7 linked regions of the Homo sapiens genome follow. The protein of the gene in region 3 purifies or fractionates together with the protein of the main gene of each other region. This does not show direct contact. Each region holds a gene or a part of one and is shown on either strand. Other genes may lie near its edges. The genes, in order: TMEM214, SERINC1, ASGR2, TIMP3, PARVG, SOAT1 and SLC38A9.

Region 1 (3,115 bases), on a different chromosome or scaffold from region 3:
CCCTGGACGCGGCTCCTCCTGTTGCTGCTGGTCTTCGCTGTAGGCTTCCTGTGCCATGACCTCCGGTCACACAGCTCCTTCCAGGGTAAGCAGCAATGGGCAAGCGAGGAGGATGGTGTGGGCGGGGCACAGAGCTACACGTAGCACCACCACCCCGCCCCCAGCAGCACACATCTTTGTCCTGACGAGTTCTCAATCCTGCAGAGTAAACACTTTACAGACAGATTTTTTTGTCCACAGATATGACACTACCATTTCAGATTGGACTAGGACTTCGCAGTATAGAAGTGCTTGCATATTCATAGTATCATTTTAGTAGGTGTTACCTCCTTTTAACTCCTGAGGAAATGGTCTCAGAAAGATGTAGCAATTAGCTTTAGGTCATAGCTAGTAAGTAGAAGGGCAGACCCTCAACCTGAGGCTTCCTGAAGCCTGAGCCTAGGCTCCAACCGGCAGCTGCATTCCTGCACACCTGGCCCAGCAGGAGAAGGGCAGCTCTGCATGCCTCCCTCCACAGCAGCCTGGAGCTGGCTTTGTGGCCCTGTGAGAACACAAAGCTCTGCCCAGCGCCTCGCTGTGCCTGCTCTGGGCCCTGTAGTGTCTGTCTCCCCAGTCCCTGCCCCTCTCACCTCCCAGCTCACCAGAGGCCCCCTTTACTTAGCCTCCCTTACTGGCCGGTTGCTTCGATCATCTGGCTTCTTACCTGCTAGCCAACAAGCGTGTGCCAAGCTCTACTCCTACAGTCTGCAAGGCTACAGGTGAGCTCCTCCCAGGGAGGGGAGAGGAGAGGCAGAAGAGAGAAGGCCTGGGTGTCAGGGAGGAGGCGACAGTCAGTGGGAAGCGCTTGTGATTCTCCTTTCCCACGGCCTCCCTTTCCCCAGCTGTTTCTTGGGAGCTAAGTGGGCCTGAGGAGACTCAGAGCCCTCTTCCCCCACTTCCATCTTCCACAGCTGGCTGGGGGAGACACTGCCGCTCTGGGGCTCCCACCTGCTCACCGTGGTGCGGCCCAGCTTGCAGCTGGCCTGGGCTCACACCAATGCCACAGTCAGCTTCCTTTCTGCCCACTGTGCCTCTCACCTTGCGTGGTTTGGTGACAGTCTCACCAGTCTCTCTCAGAGGGTAAGTCAGAGACAGGGAGTCAAATAAGGGGCTGGTTTTCCCAGGAGCAGAATTCTGGGAAAGGAGCAGCACTGTGTGGCCTGAGTCTTTAGGGCCAGGATGCAGTTCCCTGGATACTCTGACCCCATCCATTCTCCATGGTCCAGCTACAGATCCAGCTCCCCGATTCCGTGAATCAGCTACTCCGCTATCTGAGAGAGCTGCCCCTGCTTTTCCACCAGAATGTGCTGCTGCCACTGTGGCACCTCTTGCTTGAGGCCCTGGCCTGGGCCCAGGAGCACTGCCATGAGGCATGCAGGTGAGACCTTTGCCCAGGGCTCCGGCAGGATCCCCAGCAGCCCCATTCCCGGGCCCCAGGGACAAGCCATCTCTATCCAGTCTCCCACACTGTCCTGCCCCTCGCTCCCATTCCTGGCCACCCTGGGATGAGGGTTGTGGGTCTAAGCTTTCATCCCCGAAAGTTGACACAGCTACTCACGTGCATACTCAAAAATGTTCCACTTTCCTTCCAGAGGTGAGGTGACCTGGGACTGCATGAAGACACAGCTCAGTGAGGCTGTCCACTGGACCTGGCTTTGCCTACAGGACATTACAGTGGCTTTCTTGGACTGGGCACTTGCCCTGATATCCCAGCAGTAGGCCCTGCCTTCCTGGCCACTGATTTCTGCATGGGTAGACCATCCAAGACTGCAGCGGGTAGAAGGTGGCAGTTCTTCATGGGAGTCTTTTTAACTTGGTGCCTGAGTTCTCTCCTAGGCAAGTGGCCAGTTGCCTCCACCTCAGTTCTTCCATCTTTGGTGGGGACAGGGCCCAGCAGCATCTCAGCCTCCTACCCACAATTCCACTGAACACTTTTCTGGCCCTACTGCACATGGCCCCCAGCCTCCATCCTTGTGCTGGTAGCCTCTCACAACTCCGCCCTTGCCCTCTGCCTTCCACTTCCTTCCATCTCATTTCTAAACCCCAAACAGCTCATCTCTAAAAAGATAGAACTCCCAGCAGGTGGCTTCTGTGTTCTTCTGACAAATGATTCCTGCTTCTCCAGACTTTAGCAGCCTCCTGTTCCCATTCTTGGTCACAGCTCTAGCCACAGCAGAAGGAAAGGGGCTTCCAGAAGAATATAGCACCGCATTGGGAAACAGCAGCCTCACCTCCACCTGAAGCCTGGGTGTGGCTGTCAGTGGACATGGGGAGCTGGATGGAAATGCCTCTCACTTCAAAATGCCCAGCCTGCCCCAAATGCCTCTAAGCCCCTCCCTGTCCCCTCCCTTGTAGTCCTACTTCTTCCAACTTTCCATTCCCCATCATGCTGGGGGTCTTGGTCACAAGGCTCAGCTTCTCTCCACTGTCCATCCCTCCTATCATCTGTAGAGCAGAGCACAGGCAGTTGTGTGCCTTGGGCCCAGGGAACCCTCCATCAACCTGAGACAGGACTCAGTATATGGTTCTTGGGTATGCCCTACCAGGTGGAATAAAGGACACAGATTTGATTTCTAGCATTCTTGTCTGCATCCTCATATAGAAATTCCCCTAGTTATGGTTCAGAATAACAAAATCCTGGGCCCTTGCCCTCCTGAAGACTGTAGCCGTGGCTGTAATTAAGCTCCTGGTGGGGGAAGCCCACACACATGGTTCTAAAGTTTGACCTGGTGGGTGTTCTAGACACTTCTCTTGCTACCCTAATTATAGTGTCTGACTTGTCACTGTGATTCACGTCCCAGATTTGCCTTGATAGTTTTACGCTTAGAAAAGCAGGGGGCCGTCTCCTAGGGGAATTCTTGGCCAGTGACCAGGAGGTGTCCTTTCCTTGCCAGGACCTTCATTTTATAGAGCAGTGAGTGAAAGATTTAGAACTCCAAGGGACACATGAGTCCAAGGTTTATCACCGAAGCCCCTTTTTATTTTTGACTTGAGACTATAAGGAGTTAGATAACTCTGCTGGTTTCTTAGTTCTCAATTTTGTTTCCTTAAATGTTTCAAGTCAGCAGTACTAGAG
Region 2 (3,500 bases), on a different chromosome or scaffold from region 3:
CCTTAATTTGAAAGTACTTTATTTCCAAAAAATGCTAACAGTCATCTGAGCCTTCATCAAGTTGTAATCTTTTTGCTGGTAGGAGGTCTTGCCTCAATGTTGACGGCTGCTGACCGAACAGGGTGTTGGTTGCTGCAGGTTGGCATGGCTGTTTTAGTATCTTTAAACTAAGACCACAATGAAGTTTGCCCATTGATTGACTCCTCCTTTCACAAAATATTTCTCTGTAGCATATGATGCTGTTTGATAGCATTTGACCCAGAGTAGAATTTCCTTCCAAATTGGAGTCAATCCTCTTAAACCTGCTCCTGGTTCATTAAGTAAGTTTATGTAATATTCTAACTCCTTTGCTGTCATTTCAATAATATTCATAGCATCTTCATCAGGAGTAAATTCCATCTCAAAAAACTACTTTGTTCATCCATAAGAAGCAACACCTCATCATTCAGGCTTGATAATGAAATTGCAGCAATTCAGTCACATCTTCAGGTTCCACTTTTTAGTTCTCTTGCTCTTTCCACCGTATCTGTAGCTACTTCCTCCACTAAAGTCTTGAAATCCTCAGTCATCTATGAGGGTTAGAATCAACTTCTTTCAAACTCCTGTTAATGTTGATATTTTGACATTTTTTCCCATGAATCATGAATGTTCTTAATAGCATCTAGAATGGTGAATCTTTTCCAGAAGGTTTTCAGTTTACTTTGTCCACCCAGATCTATCAGAGGAATTACTCTATGGCAGCTATAGCCTTACAAAATATATTTCTTAAATAATAAGATTTAAACGTTGAAATTACTCCTTTTTCCATGGGCTGCAGAATAAATACTGTGTTAGCAGACATGAAAATATTAATCTCCCTGTACATCTCTATCAGAGCTTTTGGGTGACCCAGGTGCATCGTCATTGAGTAGTAATATTTTGAAAGGATCTTTTAGCAGTAAGTCCCAACAATGGGCTTAAAATATTCCGTAACCCATACTTTCAACAGATGTGCTGTCATCTAGGCTTTTTTCTATTCATAGAGAGGCTGAATAGACTTAATATAATTCTTAAGGGCCCTAGGATTTTTGGAATGGTAAAGAACATTGGCTTTCTCTTAAAATCATTGTCTGCATTAGTCCCTAACAAGAGAATCAGCCTGTCCTTTTAAGCTTTGAAGCCAGGCATTGACTGACTTCTCTATAGCTATGAAAGTCCTAGATTATATCTTCTTACAATAGAAGTCTATGTTGTCTTTATTGAAAATCTGTTGTTTGGTTTGGCTGCTTTCTTTTTTCTTATTTTTATTTTTTTGAGATGGAGTTTCACTCTTGTTGCACAGGCTGGAGTGCAATGGCACAATCCCCGTTCACTGCAACTTCTGTCTCCTTGGTAAGCCATTCTCCTGCCTCAGCCTCCTGAATAGCTGGGATTACAGGCCTGCGCCACCACACCCAGCTAATTTTGTATTTTTAGTAGAGATTGGGTTTCACCATGTTAGCCAGGCTGTTCTCGAACTCCTGACCTCAGGTGATCCACCCGCCTCAGCCTCCCAAAGTGCTGAACTTACAGGCGTGAGCAACCATGCCTGACCAGTGTAGCTACTTTCATTAATTTTGTTGGCTAGATTTTTAGGATGACTTGCTGTAGCTTCTGCATCAGCACTTACTGGTTCACCTTATACTTTTATGTTACGGAGACAGTTTCTTTCATTAAACCTCAACAACCAACCCCATCTAGTTTCAAACTTTTCTTCTACAGCTTCCTTCTCTCTCTCAATCTTAATAGACTTGAAGTGAGAGAGAGGGCCTTGCTCTGGATTAGGCTTTGGCTTAAGGGAATGCTCTGCTGGTTTGATCTTCTATCCAGGTCACTAAAACTTTCTCCTCCATATCAGCAATAAGACTGCTTTGCTTTCTTATCTATCATTTGTGTGTTTGTGTTCACTGGAGTGGCACTTTTAATATCCTTCAAGAACTTTTTCTTTTCTTTGCATTCGCAACTCAGCTAACTGGAACAGAAGGCCTAGCTTTTGACCTGTCTCAGCTTTTGGCATGCTTTCTTAACTAAGCTTAATCATTTCTAGCTTTTGATTTAAGTGAGAAAGGGGACTCTTTTACTTGAACAGTTAGAGGCCATTGCAGGGTTATTAACTGGCCTAATTTCCATATGGTTGTGTCTTGAAATAGGCCCAAGGAGAGGGATAGAGACAAGGAAATGGCTGGTTGGTGGAGCAGTCAGAACACACACAATGTTTGTCGATTATTTCACCATCTTATATGGGTGTGATTTGTGGTGCCCGAAAGAAATTACAATAGTAACATAATAGGTCACTGATGAGAGATCACCATAACAGATGTAATTAATAATAATGACAAATTGTGAAATATTACAAGAATTACCAAAATGTGAAACAAAGTGAGTACATACTGTTAGAAAAAATGGAACCAATAGACTTGTTTAATGCAGGGTTGCCACAAACCTTCAATTTGTAAAAAGAACAGTATCTGTAAAATGCTAAAAAAAAAAAAAAAAAAAAATAGGCAAAGCACAGTAAAACAAGGTATGTCTATGTAAGAAACTGGGTGAAATTATAAGAAAGGTATCTGATTTGCATAGAGCATATAATTGTCGTATATAGAAAGAAAAACTCTTCAAATTCCTGTTGATTCAATTGTGAACAGTATAATTTTTTCACATTATTAAATTACTCTTTTAGCCTGTGACTACCTTACAATTGAATTTGATAATTGGGCTTTGTAATGCATCTTATTATAGGCTAGTTATATTGCATACCATGAGAATAGAAACATATGTTGAAAGGAGACAAATTAGAATAGACAAAAATTATTACCTATTAAAAAGAAGAAAATGATCTCTTTTCCTAAAAAATTTATCTGATGTTATATGAATCTCATTGAGTTTACAAACTGTAGGTATTTTATCATAGGTACTTTATAACTTGGAGACCAATTTATTTTTTGTTTTTTTGTTTTGATGTATTACACAAAGATTTCCTGTTTTTTTCCAGGTAGGTGGTTAGAAAAAAATTATTAGTAGTTTGCTTTAGAGAAGGAAATAGCCTTACCTAATTGGCTTTAAGGTAAGAATCATTTTCATTAGTAAGATGGAGTTTGACAGATCTGGCTTTGCAGGAGAAAAATATGTATTTTAGACACTTTAGTGAATATTTTAGCAATCCTACTTTTTTTTTTTTTTTTTGAGACAGAGTCTCGCTCTGTCGTTAGGCTGGAATGCAGTGGCATGATCTCGGCTCACTGCAACCGCCTCCCGGGTTCGAGTCTTTCTGCCTCAGCCTCCCGAGTAGCTGGGACTACAGGCACATGCCACCACGCCCAGCTGATTTTTGTATTTTTAGTAGAGAAGCGGTTTCACCATGTTGGCCAGGATGATCTCTATCTCTTGACCTTGTGATCCGCCCGCCTCGGCCTCCCAAAGTGCTGGGATTACAGGCATGAGCCACCGCACCTTGCCTACTTTCTTCTTTATAAAAGAATAAG
Region 3 (3,500 bases):
GAGCTCCTGGGCTCAAGTGATTCCCCCCGTGTCGACCTCCCAAAGTGCTGGGATTACAGATGTGATCCACAGTGCCTGGCCCTAAATTTTTCTTACGCATTTCTCATCTTCCATTATTTCCATCCAGTGTGTTTTTTCTTTTCTTTCTTTTCTTTTTTTTTTTTTTGGAGGCGGAGTCTCGCTCTGTTGCCCAGGCCGGAGTGCAGTGGCGCGATCTTGGCTCACTGCAAGCTCTGCCTCCCGGGTTCATGCCATTCTCCTGCCTCAGCCTCCCGAGTAGCTGGGACTACAGGCGCCTGCCACCACGTCTGGCTAATTTTTTGTATTTTTAGTAGAGATGGGGTTTCACCATGTTAGCCAGGATGGTGTCGATCTCCTGACCTCATGATCTGCCCGCCTTGGCCTCCCACAGTGCTGGGATTCCAGGCGTGAGCCACGGCGCCTGGCCAGTGTGTTTTTTCATTTCAGACATTGTAGTTTTTATCTCTAGAAGTTCACCTGGGGACTCTTAAATATCCTCCACAATTCTACTTAATTTTTTGAACATAATGGGATATGGCTATAATATCTGTTTTACCATCCTTGCCTGCTAATTCTAGCATCCGTGTCAGTTCTGGATCTCTTTTGATATTTATGAACCTCCTCGTTATGCATTGTGTTTTCCCGTTTCATTGCATGCCTTGTAATCTTTGATTGGCTGCCAGACATTGTCAATTTCACCTTGTTGGGTGCTGGATATTTTTGTATTCCTCTAAATGTTCTTGAGCTTTGCTCCGGGATGCAGTTAAGCAACTTAGAGTCAGTTTGATCGTTTGAACTCTTAATTGTTTTGGTCTCCTCGGACTCTCAGCTCCATCTCCTCAACGTGGGGAGTCTCTTGGGCTCTGCCTGGACTTCCCTTTCCTGGCCTGTAACCTGCAGACTCTCTCCAAACAGTAAGCTGGGGTGATCGGAGGGTTCCTGTTGTTTGCTTCTTATCCCTCAGGGATCTTTACTCCTCCTTGCCTGATGTCCAGAGTCTTGAAAGCTGCCATGTTCTATAGTTGTCTGTTTTTGTTTTGATTGTTTCTGGGGAGAGAAGAACTCTTCCCATCTTGGGCAGACCCTGTCTTTTATGTTCAAACTTTTGCCTAAGAAGCACATTACATATTTTAACTCATCTAATTATCCGAGCAATCCAATCGGGTAGCTACGACTGTGATCTCCATTTTACACACGAGAAAATGGAAGCATGGAGAAATTGAATGCTGGTGCATGATCTCAGAGCTACCTGGAGGCACAGCTGGGCTACCCTGTGGGCAGTCTGGTTTCAGGGTGGATATACAGACACGTTGCTGGGCTGACCCAGCATTGGGAGTTGATAAGTCGGACTGGGAAGCAGGACAGGACCCTCTGAGTGGAGGGTGCTGAAGACAGCAGTCAGGGACTCAGCCATGGAGGGCCAGCTTGGTGGGGAACACCGTGGTCATGGAGCGCTTCTGGATGGAGAGGAATGCAAAGGCCTTGGAGGAAGGGGTGGGGGCAGTGAGAGGGAGGGTGGGGCTGTGCTCAGAGCGGGAGTGGGCAGTGGAGGTGTCAGAGGCCTCCCTGGGTCAAATGGGGTCCTGAGTGTGGCTGCAGTGGGGAAGGTGGAAGTCACTGGTGTGAAAAAGATGAAGAGTTATGGACAGTCACTTACAGGGGCAGTGTCTGACTCAGGACAGTGGCAGGAAGTGACCTGGGGAGGAAGATTCTGGGCCCCTGACTGAGCCTCCCCAGGATGTGGTCCTGCTGGGTCGGGGGGTGATAGGAATGAGAAGACAAGGAAGTCCACAGAGTCAGGGTCCAAGGCCTAGAAGGTGTTCTGTTTGCAGGTGGATGCTGCAAAGAGAGGAGCTCAGGGCTGGGACAACTGGAGCTGCTCTGGGTCTGGAGGCAGCAGAGAGGGAGCCCAGCTCTGTGTGCAGGAAGACGTGGGTGTGTGAGTGTACGTGTGTGGGTGTGTCAGGTGTGTGTGTGTGGGAGGGAGTATGAATGTGTGCATTAGCATGCATATGCACATGTGAGAGTGGGTACAGCAGAGCGTGGTCATGAGTGTGTGCAAATGTGTGTTTTTGAGTGAAGTGAGCAATGTGTGAGTGTGTGAGTGTGTGTGAGTTTGTGAGGGCATGTGAATGTGTGTGTCAGTGCTGTCAGGGTGCAGATGGATCAAGGGGCAGGAGAGGTACCTGTGAGATGACCTCGGGCTGAGGGGAGCAAATTTAGTGTGGAACGAGGTTTCTAGGGAAGCGAGGGCAAAGGGCGCTGGGGAGGAGGCCTTGCGTGGTGGGGGATGAGGACAACAGGTGGGACCTGGAGGGTTGTGCTTGGAGAGTGGGCTATGGTGGAATGACCCAGATTTAAGGATCTCAATGGAATTTTGGCAGGGGAGGGACTGTTCCAGTATGGATTTTAGGAAGAACACAGGGCCCAGCTTCTGGAGTCTCCAATCTGAGGGGACAGGAGCCTTAGAAGAGCTGAGACTAAGGCCCGAGGTGATCTGGAGGCCTCTGCCACTGGCTGGATGGGAGGAAAACCATTCACAGATCCCCCTTCTCAGGATGTGTGCCTAGGCAGGGCCGGGTCTGCCCCCCCGCCCCCTGTGCGTCTCCCAGTCCCCCAGCTCCAGGATCCGGGCTTTGCACACAGCTGATGTGAATATCCTGAGTCGTGTGCATGGGTGTGTGTGCACCAGATTAGCTGCGTGTGTATATTTATACATGGTAATATGGGTGCGAGTGTGTAAGAGTGTGTGTGTAATGCTCAAATGCTGGGGTCAAAGCCTATGATGACCCCCCCCCATGGCCCCAACCAATCCCCCCGCCCAGGTTATGCCTCCTCAGGCTTCGGTGCCCTGTCTTTACCCTCCGGCTCCCCACACCCAGGCTGCCGGCTCCTGATGCCCCTCTCCCACAGGGCCACCTCCTGCCCAGCCCCTGGCACAGCGTCTCTGCTCCATGGTCTGCTTCAGTCTGCTTGCCCTGAGCTTCAACATCCTGCTGCTGGTGGTCATCTGTGTGACTGGGTCCCAAAGTGAGGGTCACGGGGGCCAGCAGGGATGGGCAAGGGGTAGGGAAAGAGACATGGGCAGTGGCGGGCAGCGATCGGGGCGATGGGAGGGGAAGGGATGGAGGCGGGGTGGAGCACAAGCTGGGGCAAATGCGGGGACATTGAGGGGCCAGTCACATGGACAGTGATGGGGACACGGCCCCTCTGCCTCATCCTGCCCCCACTACCACCTGACAAGGTGCACAGCTGCAAGCCGAGCTGCGGAGCCTGAAGGAAGCTTTCAGCAACTTCTCCTCGAGCACCCTGACGGAGGTCCAGGCAATCAGCACCCACGGTGAGGGGCTGGACGGCTGGGTTCTCATTTATCCGCACAGGTTTGCTGGGCTCAGTGCCGAGTCTGCAACAGGGCTGTGTGGGGTGCCGTGGGGGTGCAGGCTGGGCAAGGCGTCCAGGGGCCCTGGGGGATGTATAGG
Region 4 (2,837 bases), on a different chromosome or scaffold from region 3:
GGGCCTGGGCACAGGAGGGAGAGCTGCAGAGTGTCCTGCCTGCCTTGGCTGGAGGGACACCTCTCCTGGGTGTGGAGACAGCTTGGTTCCCTTTCCCTAGCTCCCTGGTGGGTGAATGCCACCTCCTGAGATCCTCACCTCTTGGAATTAAAATTGTTGGTCACTGGGGAAAGCCTGAGTTTGCAACCAGTTGTAGGGTTTCTGTTGTGTTTTTTTTTTTTTTTTTGAAATAAAACTATAATATAAATTCTCCTATTAAATAAAATTATTTTAAGTTTTAGTGTCAAAAGTGAGATGCTGAGAGTAGGTGATAATGTATATTTTACAGAGTGGGGGTTGGCAGGATGGTGACATTGAACATGATTGCTCTCTGTCTCTTTTTTCAGCTTATGGGTATTTATCTTCTATTAGTATTTGTATCTTCAGTTCATTCCACTTTAGGAAACAGAGCTGCCAATTGAAACAGAAGAAGAAAAAAAAAAAAAGCAGCAGACAACACACTGTAGAGTCTTGCACACACACAAGTGCCCAGGCAAGGTGCTTGGCAGAACCGCAGAGTGGGAAGAGAGTACCGGCATCGGGTTTCCTTGGGATCAATTTCATTACCGTGTACCTTTCCCATTGTGGTCATGCCATTTGGCAGGGGGAGAATGGGAGGCTTGGCCTTCTTTGTGAGGCAGTGTGAGCAGAAGCTGATGCCAGCATGTCACTGGTTTTGAAGGGATGAGCCCAGACTTGATGTTTTGGGATTGTCCTTATTTTAACCTCAAGGTCTCGCATGGTGGGGCCCCTGACCAACCTACACAAGTTCCCTCCCACAAGTGGACATCAGTGTCTTCTCTGTGAGGCATCTGGCCATTCGCACTCCCTGGTGTGGTCAGCCTCTCTCACACAAGGAGGAACTTGGGTGAAGGCTGAGTGTGAGGCACCTGAAGTTTCCCTGCGGAGTCGATAAATTAGCAGAACCACATCCCCATCTGTTAGGCCTTGGTGAGGAGGCCCTGGGCAAAGAAGGGTCTTTCGCAAAGCGATGTCAGAGGGCGGTTTTGAGCTTTCTATAAGCTATAGCTTTGTTTATTTCACCCGTTCACTTACTGTATAATTTAAAATCATTTATGTAGCTGAGACACTTCTGTATTTCAATCATATCATGAACATTTTATTTTGCTAAATCTTGTGTCATGTGTAGGCTGTAATATGTGTACATTGTGTTTAAGAGAAAAATGAAACCCACATGCCGCCATTTTCCTGAATCAAATTCTGCAGTGGAATGGAGAGGAAAATACTTCTAGGCAAGCAGCTAGACTGGTGAATTGGGGGAAATAGAAGGAACTAGTAACTGAGACTCCTCCAGCCTCCTCCCTATTGGAATCCCAATGGCTCCTGGAGTAGGAAAAAAGTTTAAACTACATTCATGTTCTTGTTCTGTGTCACTCGGCCCTGGGTAGTCTACCATTTACTTCACCCCAAGTCCTGCTGCCCATCCAGTTGGGAAGCCATGATTTTCCTAAGAATCCAGGGCCATGGGAGATACAATTCCAAGTTCTCGCTTCCTCCTTTGGGCATCTCTTCTGCCTCCCAATCAAGGAAGCTCCATGCTCAGGCTCTCAGCTCTCGGGCCAGTGCTCTGCTCTGTCCAGGGTAGGTAATACTGGGAGACTCCTGTCTTTTACCCTCCCCTCGTTCCAGACCTGCCTCATGGTGGCAACATGGTTCTTGAACAATTAAAGAAACAAATGACTTTTTGGAATAGCCCTGTCTAGGGCAAACTGTGGCCCCCAGGAGACACTACCCTTCCATGCCCCAGACCTCTGTCTTGCATGTGACAATTGACAATCTGGACTACCCCAAGATGGCACCCAAGTGTTTGGCTTCTGGCTACCTAAGGTTAACATGTCACTAGAGTATTTTTATGAGAGACAAACATTATAAAAATCTGATGGCAAAAGCAAAACAAAATGGAAAGTAGGGGAGGTGGATGTGACAACAACTTCCAAATTGGCTCTTTGGAGGCGAGAGGAAGGGGAGAACTTGGAGAATAGTTTTTGCTTTGGGGGTAGAGGCTTCTTAGATTCTCCCAGCATCCGCCTTTCCCTTTAGCCAGTCTGCTGTCCTGAAACCCAGAAGTGATGGAGAGAAACCAACAAGAGATCTCGAACCCTGTCTAGAAGGAATGTATTTGTTGCTAAATTTCGTAGCACTGTTTACAGTTTTCCTCCATGTTATTTATGAATTTTATATTCCGTGAATGTATATTGTCTTGTAATGTTGCATAATGTTCACTTTTTATAGTGTGTCCTTTATTCTAAACAGTAAAGTGGTTTTATTTCTATCACACATCTGCTGTCTCTTGCCTTGTTGTGTTCTGACGCCACGGGGAGTTATGTATACACCAGCAGGCCTTGAAAGTCTATCCCCAGCTCCAGGCCTGGACACATCCCTCCCTCCATGCACCGCTATGGCCTGGCCCCACCCTGCTCCAGTCCTTTTCCCTTGCAGAAGGAATCTTAGGAGAGGTGCCCTGCCTTGACTTTGCTCCCTGATTCTATTGCTAGAGTCCTCCCTAGTTCTGCTGAATCTGGATGTATTAATATATCTGTACCTAATCACCTATTGGTGGTACAAGTACCCCCAGACTGGAGTCCTTACTCAGCCCTCCTTGTTTTCTTCCTAAGAATCCCAACCTGGTGGAGGTGGGGAGGGGCGGCCTGCAAACAGCAGTCCTTGATGTCAACTGCCTGCTTGAAATTCCAAGTATGGCTTGGCCTAGTTGGGAACACCAGGAACTCATGAGGTCTCACGACAGCTGGTGACCTTTTCCCAGAGCTTATAACAAC
Region 5 (3,500 bases), on a different chromosome or scaffold from region 3:
TGTCCCTCGCCCCCACGGGGATGCATCTTGAGTGGGTGTGGCCTCCACCTTCCCTGGAGGCCAGGTGCTCTGGACTTGGTTCCCAAGAGCTGGGATGTTGGGTCAGAGCAACGAGGCCGGGGCAGTCAGTGTCTACGGTCCTGGTGGTTGTGGCAGGCACGGTGCCTGCTGCTTCCTAGGTTCTTCCATTCGGAGGAGCTGCATCAGCCAGCCATTGCCACAAACGTGCTGCTTAACAAACCACCCGAAAACCTAGGGGCTGAAAACCATGCTCATTTCTTCCCACAGACCGGCAGGTCGGCTGAGTTTAGCTGCTAGAGGCTCAGCTAGGCTTTGTCACTCCTCCGAGGACTGGATAGGGATCAGGCTGTCGTGGCTGGGTGGCTCGGCTCTGTGCCACAGCCTGCCATGTTCCTTCTGGGACCAGCAGCTGGCCCGGGCACGCTTTCCTCCTGGCAATGGCAGACACATGAGAGACCAGGCAGAAGGCATGAGGCCCTGGCTCAGAATGGGCAGGCTGCCACTTCCATCGAAGCAGGCCCTGTGGCCTTGACAGTGACATGGGACAGCCCTGCAAAGTGTGTGGGTGCAGAATTGGGCCGATGGTGGGATCTCCCACGGGCAGTGTGGACGAATGTGCTAGCAAATCCTCATGTTGGGTCTTGGAGTTAGGAACTCTTCCCATCCCCACTTCCACAGAGGAAACAGTTGAGAGAGGCACAGAAGTCTGGCCCAGAGCACACAGTGAGTTAGGGTCCTCCCTGTTTCCCTCCTGTGGAGCCAATGTGAGTCTCTGGGAGATGGAGGGGTGGCAGGGCTCAGTGGGGTTGAAGCCAAGGCTGAGACTGGGGTCAGAGCCTGCCTCGGGAAGGCAAGGCACTGAAATGTGAGCGGTGAGGAGAGAAGGCGGAGGAAGGGGGCAGGCAGGACCACCTGCGGGCTGAGGGCCTGGGGCTCGGAACCCAGCTCAGAGCCACTCTGGGGTGCCCCTGGGCTGCAGGGCCTCTGCTCAATCTGTTGCACCATCCAAGCCCCAGTTACAAGACGGGAACAAACGTGCAGACTTCCATGTTGCTGTGTGCAGCCGCTTTGCTGAATCCACTGATTTTAGAACTTACTTCTGAATATGAGTCAGATTAGATGTGGGGGAAAAGCAGCAGCCTCTTAGCTCAGACTCCAAGAATGAATTTTTACAGCATATTGTGGGCAATCTCTGCTGCAGGAATGTGTAATCAAAATGCTGAAGAGGTCGTCAGCTGAGGAGGGCGGGAACACCAGCCCTTGCTGAAGGTGGGCCTCTGCGGAATTGTTATCTTGGCAGAGTAGCCTCTTGAAATTGGATTTCTCATTATCAGACCCTCTTTGCTGATGGTGTTTATGTGAGATAGTTATTCATTGTGGGCACGGAAGTTAAGGATGGAGGGAGAGAGGATCATTCGCTCCCAGAAATAAAATCCCCGGAGCCAGGAATCCTTGGCGTCCTTCCACGTTAAATTACTTTCCCCAGGAGGATTTGCACGTATCCTCCCGGGTTGTAACCTTCTCTCAGCTCCGTGGAAGGTGGTAGTTTTATCTTCATCTCAAGCCACACGCGGAAGAAAAATCTCTGGACAGAGCATCATGAGATAGCTCTGGAGCCAGGGTCAGCTCTTACTGGGGGATGATCTTTTGTTCAGATTGAGTGTCATTGAGGAAGAGTGTGACAAACAGAAGCAGATGTCATAATTTTCAGTGTCGATAGCAATTCCCAAAGCATAAGCTCTATGAGGGCAGGAGGTCTGGTCTGTTTTGAGCACTGGTTGTATGGCTAGCACATAGTAGATGACAAGTATTTTTTTAAATAAGTGAATGAACGAAGTGTTTCCAAAACATTGGTCCCAGGAGGTGTTCTGTGACAAATGGGTTCTATGAATAAATAACTTGGGGAAACATGTCTAGTCTTGAAGGTTCATGCGGCCCACCAACACATTCAAGGCTCTAATAAGTCCTGCAGTGAAGGACTTCCATAGTATTTTATTTAATCCAACAATTTCTAAAAACGTTTGGCCACAGATATCCCCTTTCCTGTCCATCTTAGATCACAGTTTGGGAGATGCTGGCTCGCTGAATGTATCAAAGGCGGAGCTTTGAGGCAGGAGAGCACAGTGCGGAGTCTGGAACCTCAGGTTCCTCAGGGTCTTGTTCTCACTCCGACATTTACTCTCCATGTAACTGCAAATAATATTCGTGATGAGAATGCGAACAATAGCAACAATTGCAACCCTAGTTTCCCAGAATATTCCAGTCTAGGAGGAAGAACTGGGGACACAGTGATGGGAACTTCCGGTGATGCTCTGGTCTGTCCACTCGGAGCTTCCCATCCATCTTGGTCTGGACAGTCTCAGAGTTTCACCCCGCATTGGCCCCTGCAGCATGCTGCAACATTGGTGCCGTGTGATAGCCTTTGTTTCGCTCTTGTCACCCAGGATGGAGTGCAGTGGTGCAATCTTGGCTCACTGCAACCTCCGCCTCCTGGGTTCAAGCAATTCTCCTGCCTCAGCCTCCCAAGTAGCTGGGATTACAGGCACGTGCCACCACACCCAGCTAATTTTTGTATTTTTAGTAGAGACAGGGTTTCACCATGTTGGCCAGGCTGGTCTCGAACTCCTGACCTCAGGTGATCTGCCCACTTTGGCCTCTCAAAGTGCTGGGATTACAGGAATGAGCCACCGTGCCTAGCCTGTTTCTTCTTGTTGGCTGACTACAGAGGAGCGGCCCTGCTGCTGCTGCTGGGCACCCTGCCCATACACTCCTTTCCATCTGGGACCCGCCCTCCATCTTCATGTCCCCACGTGGAGAAGGACTCTGCTCACCCACTTCCAGCTCCTATGCCTTCATCATCCTCACCTTCAAATCTTGCTTTGTGGCTTCAATTCTGTGTCCGTCATCACATTGGACGCACATGGCAGCCTTGGAGAGGAAGGCAGACAGGTGTATCATCCCCGTGACACAGATGAGGCACCTGAGGCCCAGCCAGGATGTGTGACTTGTCCGAGGTCAGACACTTAGTGGCAGGGATGGGGGTGGCAGTACACAGACATCCAAGCTAGATCCCAAGAGTCCTCTTGCTCGGGCCATCCAGCAGGTGGCTGGAGGTGGCCTGGGCCAGGCTGGCGTTTCTGGATGAGTCTTGCCTGGCCTTGCTCATCCACCGCTCGGCCAACCTGGCCTCTTGGCCCCTGGCGGGTTGCCATGGGAACTGCCCTGTCCTGGTGGGGCTGGTGTGGCCAGGCAGATAGGGAGGGAACGGGACCAGCACAGCTGACCCCCGGGCTGGGATGTCCACCCCGTCTAGTGGATCTACGGGTGGCTAAGACATTGAAGGGAGGACCTGTTTGAGGTCACAGTGAACCAGGAGTTCATCCCTCTTCACCCACACCAGGCTGCTGCCCTAAGGCAAAGGGCTGGGACCTACTCTGCTTGTAGACGAGGCCCAAGGGAGAAGCTAGAATGGAAAGGGA
Region 6 (3,500 bases), on a different chromosome or scaffold from region 3:
CTCCCCAGTATTGGCTCATCCTCCTTTGCATAAATTTCACATTTTATATCACACTAAAACTAGCCCATATGCCATATAAATATGTCATATATAGCTAACTAAGAGCCTATCAATAAACCTCATTATGCCAACTCAAGCAGCAATGTTTACATTCCTGGTGGGATCCAGCTGTTGATATTTAAGTTTAATTAAATTTAGGTAGGAAAAACAAAACTGTTTCTTTATGAAAAGAGATGAAATGCCAAAGACAACCTGTCTCAGAAGGTTCCGCACCTATTTGTTAACTAAACAATCCTCAATTTTCAAATCCTTGTTGAAATCAAACCTTTACAAATGTCACTGCAAAAATTAATACCCTGATGCAATAGATGACATCAATTAGAGTTGTGTTTACAAGTCTATCATTCATAATCATAAACCTTGACCTTAACAACAAAGGACTATCGTATTCCTCTTTGTAGTCAGGCATTAAGCAAACGTGGATACAAGAACTAATAAAACTCCCTAACTACTCCTCTCCCAAGATTTATAGCTCAGTATTGAACTGGGTTAGGCACCCTGCTAATTACTCACATTTTACTCATTACATCTATTATGAAAGTAGTTAATTACAAGAATATTACACTGTGATAAATCTAGTTATGTGTATGATTTTGGAGGTTTTGTCATTCACTTAACTTGGAGCTCCATAATGGCAAACAAATCCGTACTGATCACTGCTATAGCCCCAGCATCCAGCGGGGGACCTCAGCAATTATTGGTAGGTTACGTGACTGAATGAATGGTCTCTAAAACACAGCAGATACCAATAGATGACCACCAAATTAATTAACGAGAAAGGACTTATTGTCTAATTGCTTTGTTACTAGACATATAAAACTCTATCAATACCCATTTACAATAAAGAATTAAAGAGATGGCAATACTTATTCTATAACACTGTATTTGTTCTCTATTTCACTAATTCACCTAAAAAAAAAAAATTAAGCCTCACCATTACTAGGTGTCTCTAGGGACTCCTTTGCAGGGTTTCTCTGGTCTTCATCTTCCTCAGGATTTTCCCTGGACTTTGACAGCCGGTTTCTTAGAGACATCTTCTCTTCACCCACCATTGTATTGTCTAGGAAAGAAGGTGTAAAAAGCTTTCGTATTAGTCCGTTTTCACACTGCTATACACTACCTGAGACTGGGTAATTTATAAAGGAAAGAGGTTTAACTGTCTCACAGTTCCGCATGGCTGGAAAGGCCTCAGGAAACTTACAATCATGGCAGAAGACCAAGGGGAGGCAAGGCATGTCTTACGTGGCGGCAGGAGAGACAGAGCAAGGAAGTGCCACATTTAAAACCATCAGCTCTCATGAGAACTCCCTCACTATCACGAGAACAGCATGGGGGAAACTGCCCCCATGATCCAATCACCTCCCACCAGTTCCCTCCCTAGACACGTGGTGATTACAGTTAGAGATGAGATTTGTGTGGGGACACAGAAGCAAACCAATATATCAGCTTTGAACTAAGCATCTGGCTTACGTGAATTTCACAATACCACTATATTTAGGAGAGGTGAAATGTGATGATACATTCTCTTCCTTTTGCATTAATCATTTCAAAGCATTTTCTGGGTACAAGATACTCAAGATAACAAATCTGAAGAAATCAGGTCCTATAAAATAATTGGAATGGTTTTGAAGCCCCTTTTTAAACATAGACCCCACTCTTAAAGAACAATTTAGTTGAACAAAGCATTAAGTATGTAAAAAAAAAAAAAAAAGGATTAAATAGTAACAGGTAACTACAAAGATGCCACAGGGTGGAGTATGATTTAATAACAAAGTCAATGGTAAAAACAATACCTTAAGTTCAGAGACAGCAGAGATTAGCAGAAGATGTAAAGGTTTCACAGAAAAGAAGGTATTTTAGACACAGTCTTGAAGGATGAGAACTGTGCATTCCATGTGCAAGAAAGGATTAAAACAAGGACCTTATAAGCCCCGTTCAGGGAACCATGAAGGAATTGAACTACGACAAAAACAAGTTTTTGTTAAGTATCTACTAAGTGCAAGGACCCTGCCAGATGCTTTAAGTTTTCTCATTTAATCTTCATAACAATTCTGAAAAAAATTACCCTCAGTTTTCACATGAGAAAACAATGATTTAAAGTAGTTACTATCAGTGTCCTCCACCCATGTACCAGGAATACACCTGCAGTTGAACAAGCTGAATTTATAGGAATGCACACCACAGCCCCAGGTACTAGAGTCTGCTTTTCTTCTCATTACAGTAACTTGCCCAAGACCACACAGCTAACGACAGAGCCCGATTGGAACTGGCATTAGTTGGATCCAAACTACAAAGACCACTAACTACTGGGGGAAAATAGTTGGTAATGGAGAAATGTGATGAGGGAAAAGACTAGAAAGGAGGACAGGAGTCAAACTATAAAGGCCTAAGAAATTAGAAGTTTTTCAGGAAGGCAGTGGTGAGACACTTTAAGCACTAAAAAACATGATCAAAGATCAATATCAAGATAGTACAAGGTTTACTCTAAAGCCATGTGTTTCCCTAGTTGGGCATGGTGGCACACAGCTGTAGTCCCAGCTACTTGGGAGGCTCAGGCGGGAGGATGACTTGAACCCAGGAGTTTGAGTCTGGCATGGGAAACATAGCAAGACCACATCTCAAAATTATTTATTTATTTATTTATTGAGAAGGAGTATCGCTTTGCCCAGGTGGGAGTGCAATGGTGCAATCTCGGCTCACTGCAACCTCCGCCTCCTGGGTTCAGGCAATTCTCCTGCCTCAGCCTCCCGAGTGGCTGAGATTACAGGTGACTGCCACCACACGTGGCTAATTTTTGTATTTTAGTAGAGACAGGGTTTCACCATGTTGGTCACGCTGGTCTCGAACTTCTGACCTCAAGTTATCCGCCCGCCTCAGCCTCCCAAAGTGCTGGGATTACAGGCATGAGCCACCGCACCCGGCCAAAAAAACAATTTTAAATAAAAAGTAAAGCAGTGTTTCACTATGTGATAAAGTTTTCAAGAGTCTAAAGCAAGAAGAAAACAACTGTGAAATACTCATTACATTATTTTAAAGCTATATATATTTAAATTCTGAGACTACAGTTTTTCTTAATTTTTGTACTAAAATATCCTTTTCTGTATAAAAGGATGAAATATAGTACATGGTGGGTTTGGTTGTTTTTCAACTATCACAGCTTGGCAAAGTAAAAATCTGACAAATCTAGATCGGCTTTCTTCTAATTATTTCTGAAATCAAACAAATGAAACAATTGTGGAACAGCAGATGAATATATCAAGTAGAAATGTTATGATATCATAAGATCTAATTAAGAGGAACTTAAGGGAAAAGTCAGGGCTAATAAATCACAAGACGATGCCCAACTTACAATGGTCCAATTCTGTGTAAAAGTGACAGAGGAAGCCACAAGAGCATCTATCTCTTCATCAGAAATGATGAGAGAAGTAAGAACTGAAAAC
Region 7 (3,488 bases), on a different chromosome or scaffold from region 3:
CTGGGACTACAGGCGCCCACCACCATGCCCGGCTAATTTTTTGTATTTTTTAGTAGTGGTGGGGTTTCACTGTGTTAGCCAGGATGGTCTCAATCTCCTGACCTTGTAATCCGCCCGCCTCAGCCTTCCAAAGTGCTGGGATTACCGGCGTGAGCCACTGCACCCGGCCTACATTTATGCAATTTTACATAAATGATCAATTGTTTAGAATTGAAGGTCAGATATATAATTAATTTTTATTTGATATATAACAAGTTTAAATTACTGCTATAATTGTTAACCTCTTATTAGGGATGAAGGAGTTGTGAGTTCTTTTGAAAATCTTTTCAAAGCTGGTTACCCTCATCCAAGAGAAATTTCTTTTTTTTTTTCAAGAGAAATTTCTATATGTCATTTCAGAGTTTCCCAGCAGCCTTCTTGTGGACCTTTGGTTAACTCCTACCCTTACATTAAGTCTTTTTATAGGTTCATCTTAGTGAAAAGAACCTAGTCCACTTTTATTAGGCATATGTTCTTTTAAAGAAAGATAACTTAAATAAAATTTGAAAAAAATTGCATTTACAGTAAGCAACTAAACAAGTGGTCTTAATCAGTTCTTGTTTAAAATGAACTGATGTAGTCTGCTTCTTCGATAAATAATTTTTGCCATAAATATGTTGGTTTCAAAACAAAGCAAAAGTCAGGAGTTACCAGGTCTCAAGCACTGATAAGTATAGCAGCAGCTATGGTTCTAGTGTTATTATCCAGAAGATTGGAGCTCAATAAATGTAAGCCTCTGATTGTGTTTCTACTCTGCTGTATTTATATTCATCAAAGAAAATAAATACAGTGAAGTCATAGATGAAAAAATGCTAAGCAAATACATTATTCCTGTTTTCTACCATTATTTTGCAGAATGTGGCTATCTTTACAATAATGTTTTTTCTTCTTGGAAAAAGTCAGAGATTTCCCTTTTGTTTTCACATTACAGTTCTTCCCCTACCACCAAGAACACATTGTCATTTTCATTTATCCGACAGTTATAAGCACTTTATAGAGTGTGCATACTTTGGAGCATAATTTTTGGTCTCAGGACCCTTTATGCTCTTAAAAATGTATTGAGGACTCCAGGAGCTTTAGTTTATGCAGGTATAGCTATCAGTATTTAAATATTAAAAAATAGAATTTAGGTTTTTTGTTTTTCGTTTTTTTGAGACGGAGTTTCACTCTTGTCGCCCAGGCTGGAGTGCAGTGGCATGATCTTGGCTCACTGCAACCCCTGCCTCCTGGGTTCAAGCAATTCTCCTACCTCAGCCTCCCGAGTAGCTGGGATTACAGGCACCCACCACCATGTCTGCCTAATTTTTTGTGTTTTTAGTAAAGATGGTGTTTCGCCATGTTGGGCAGGCTGGTCTTGAACTCCTGACCTCAGGTGATCTGCCTGCCTCAGCCTCCCAAAGTGCTGGTATTACAGGCATGAGCCACCGTGCCCAGCAAAGTATTTTTAATTTGTTTAAAATCAATAATAAAACCATTACTTGTTAACATAAGTAACATTTTTGTAAAAAAACACTTTCAGGGGATGGATACCCCAGTCTCCATGATGTGATTATTATGTATTACATGCCTGTATGAAAACATCTTATGTGCCCCATAAATATATACACCTACTATGTACCCACCAAAATTTAAAAAAATAAAAATAACTGCTTTCAAAAAATTTTTAATTTAGCCGTTCGTGGTGGCTCACACCTGTAATCCCAGCACTTTGGGAGGCCAAGGCGGGTGGATCATGAGGTCAGGAGATCGAGACCATCCTGGCCACCATGGTGAAACCCCATCTCTACTAAAAATACAGAAATTAGCCTGGCGTAGTGGCAGGCGCTTGTAATCCCAGGTACTCGGGAGGCTGAGGTAGGAGAATTGCTTGAACCCAGGAGGCGGAGGTTGCAGTGAGCCAAGATGGCACCACTGCACTCCAGCCTGGGTGACAGAGCGAGACTCCATCTCAAAAAAAAACAAAAACAAACAAACAAAAAAACCCTTTAATTTACATTTGCAAAACTCTGATGTTTGTTTTACTAGCAGACAATTGATTCTCCTCTCTACTTCTGCATTCCATGTTATAATATCCTGTTTTCGTTTAGATTTGTGAAGAAAATCCAGCCTCACATAGATAGTTGGAAAAAGAAGGAGTACTTTTAATAGCTTTTTCATATAATTGTGGATATTCTTCTTTGATACTGTGCCAAAACCTGACGAGTGGTAGCTTCTTATGAGTTGCATCGTGGAATCTGAAACTTGTTTACATTAAAACCAATTGGTCTATCGTGCACTTTGGATCTTTTACGCATGCATGATTTTGTAACATCTGTTTGATCATTTGGAAAATATTGGTTCACTGAGTTCTGTGGATCTTCCAAATGTTGACACACTTCATTTTACAATATCAAAACCCACTTTCATTAATACTATCACTAATTTCATCACAAGAGCCTTTAAACATTGGGAAACTGTCAAGCTCAGGGTAGCAAATACAAGTTTTCCAAAATTCTAGTTTTTATTTGAAAACTTTAATTTTATCTTTGGCAACAAATACTGCCAGTTGTTTTCCTTGAATTATATAAGTGACAAGCTTATATAATTCATTTTTCTGGAAAATCTCTGTCAAACACCTGAGTTTGAATGACCATAGTTTGACTGCAATTCAAGTAAAAGTAGCATTTGGTAGGCAAAACAGCTAGGTCCCCTTCAGCTCAGCCACACAGGTACTTTTCCTCAAGACTTCCAGCGTACTGTACTGCAGTACGCGCAGATGTGCTTTATTATGACTTTCCTATTTGATCACATAGAATATTTAAAGGATATATATTCAAACATGAGATTTAGCAAAATTAATGTTCTACTCCTTTATCAAGGACTTTTTTTATACTTTGGAGAGTGTTTGGCATTAAAGAATAGAGTATAGAAAGCATGGGTGTTAGCCGGTCATGGTGACACACACCTGTAGTCCCAGCTATTCAGGAGGTTGGTTTGAGCCCAGAAGTTCAAGCCTTCAGTAAGCCATTATTGCCCCACTGCACTGCAGCCTGGATGACAGAGCAAGACCCTGTCTCTTAAAAAAATAATAATAATTAATTAAAATTTTAGAAAAGGAATACAGATGGATGCAACTGCCTCCCTCTGTGTATACAAAGTTGTTTCCGTTTATAATGCAGAAATAACAAAAGCCCAGCCAATACCTCAAAGCTCTGAAGCAATTTTAAGGTTAGAGTTTCTGGGTAAACAGTAAGATCTGTAAGCCCTAATATCTTTCTAATTCATCAGGGTATATGACTAACCACTTATTTATATAAATAATTTTCTTTGTTTCTAATTCTCTGTAATCTTTATCTGGGATTAATTAACCTCTGATGACTTGGGCCCAAAGGGTTGCTTTGATGTGTACATTTGGCTTTTGAGAATCATTTTCAGGGGAAATGGAGTTCTTTCTTCAGCATCAAATTTTC

What was found.
Region 1: the proteins of ASGR2 (region 3) and TMEM214 purify together in Homo sapiens (affinity purification with mass spectrometry; 4 studies listed by BioGRID and IntAct, with this or other methods). This does not show direct contact.
Region 2: the proteins of ASGR2 (region 3) and SERINC1 purify together in Homo sapiens (affinity purification with mass spectrometry; 4 studies listed by BioGRID and IntAct, with this or other methods). This does not show direct contact.
Region 4: the proteins of ASGR2 (region 3) and TIMP3 purify together in Homo sapiens (affinity purification with mass spectrometry; 3 studies listed by BioGRID and IntAct, with this or other methods). This does not show direct contact.
Region 5: the proteins of ASGR2 (region 3) and PARVG purify together in Homo sapiens (affinity purification with mass spectrometry; 3 studies listed by BioGRID and IntAct, with this or other methods). This does not show direct contact.
Region 6: the proteins of ASGR2 (region 3) and SOAT1 purify together in Homo sapiens (affinity purification with mass spectrometry; 4 studies listed by BioGRID and IntAct, with this or other methods). This does not show direct contact.
Region 7: the proteins of ASGR2 (region 3) and SLC38A9 purify together in Homo sapiens (affinity purification with mass spectrometry; 3 studies listed by BioGRID and IntAct, with this or other methods). This does not show direct contact.

The regions. Positions count from the first base shown.
Region 1 is NC_000002.12:27,039,080-27,042,194, forward strand, and holds the end of TMEM214 (transmembrane protein 214), read left to right. Parts: coding exon 1-85; intron 86-661; coding exon 662-758; intron 759-950; coding exon 951-1,119; intron 1,120-1,265; coding exon 1,266-1,417; intron 1,418-1,631; coding exon 1,632-1,758; 3' UTR 1,759-2,615; downstream 2,616-3,115. UniProt on the Homo sapiens protein: Critical mediator, in cooperation with CASP4, of endoplasmic reticulum-stress induced apoptosis. Required or the activation of CASP4 following endoplasmic reticulum stress.
Region 2 is NC_000006.12:122,447,808-122,451,307, reverse strand, and holds part of SERINC1 (serine incorporator 1), read left to right. Parts: intron 1-3,500.
Region 3 is NC_000017.11:7,108,323-7,111,822, reverse strand, and holds part of ASGR2 (asialoglycoprotein receptor 2), read left to right. Parts: intron 1-2,934; coding exon 2,935-3,051; coding exon of another isoform or gene 3,052-3,087; intron 3,088-3,265; coding exon 3,266-3,361; intron 3,362-3,500. UniProt on the Homo sapiens protein: Mediates the endocytosis of plasma glycoproteins to which the terminal sialic acid residue on their complex carbohydrate moieties has been removed. The receptor recognizes terminal galactose and N-acetylgalactosamine units.
Region 4 is NC_000022.11:32,860,705-32,863,541, forward strand, and holds the end of TIMP3 (metalloproteinase inhibitor 3 precursor), read left to right. Parts: 3' UTR 1-2,337; downstream 2,338-2,837.
Region 5 is NC_000022.11:44,201,425-44,204,924, forward strand, and holds part of PARVG (gamma-parvin), read left to right. Parts: intron 1-3,500. UniProt on the Homo sapiens protein: Plays a role with ILK in promoting the cell adhesion and spreading of leukocytes.
Region 6 is NC_000001.11:179,300,297-179,303,796, reverse strand, and holds part of SOAT1 (sterol O-acyltransferase 1), read right to left. Parts: intron 1,121-3,500; 5' UTR 1,113-1,120; coding exon 995-1,112; intron 1-994.
Region 7 is NC_000005.10:55,628,837-55,632,324, reverse strand, and holds part of SLC38A9 (neutral amino acid transporter 9), read left to right. Parts: intron 1-3,488.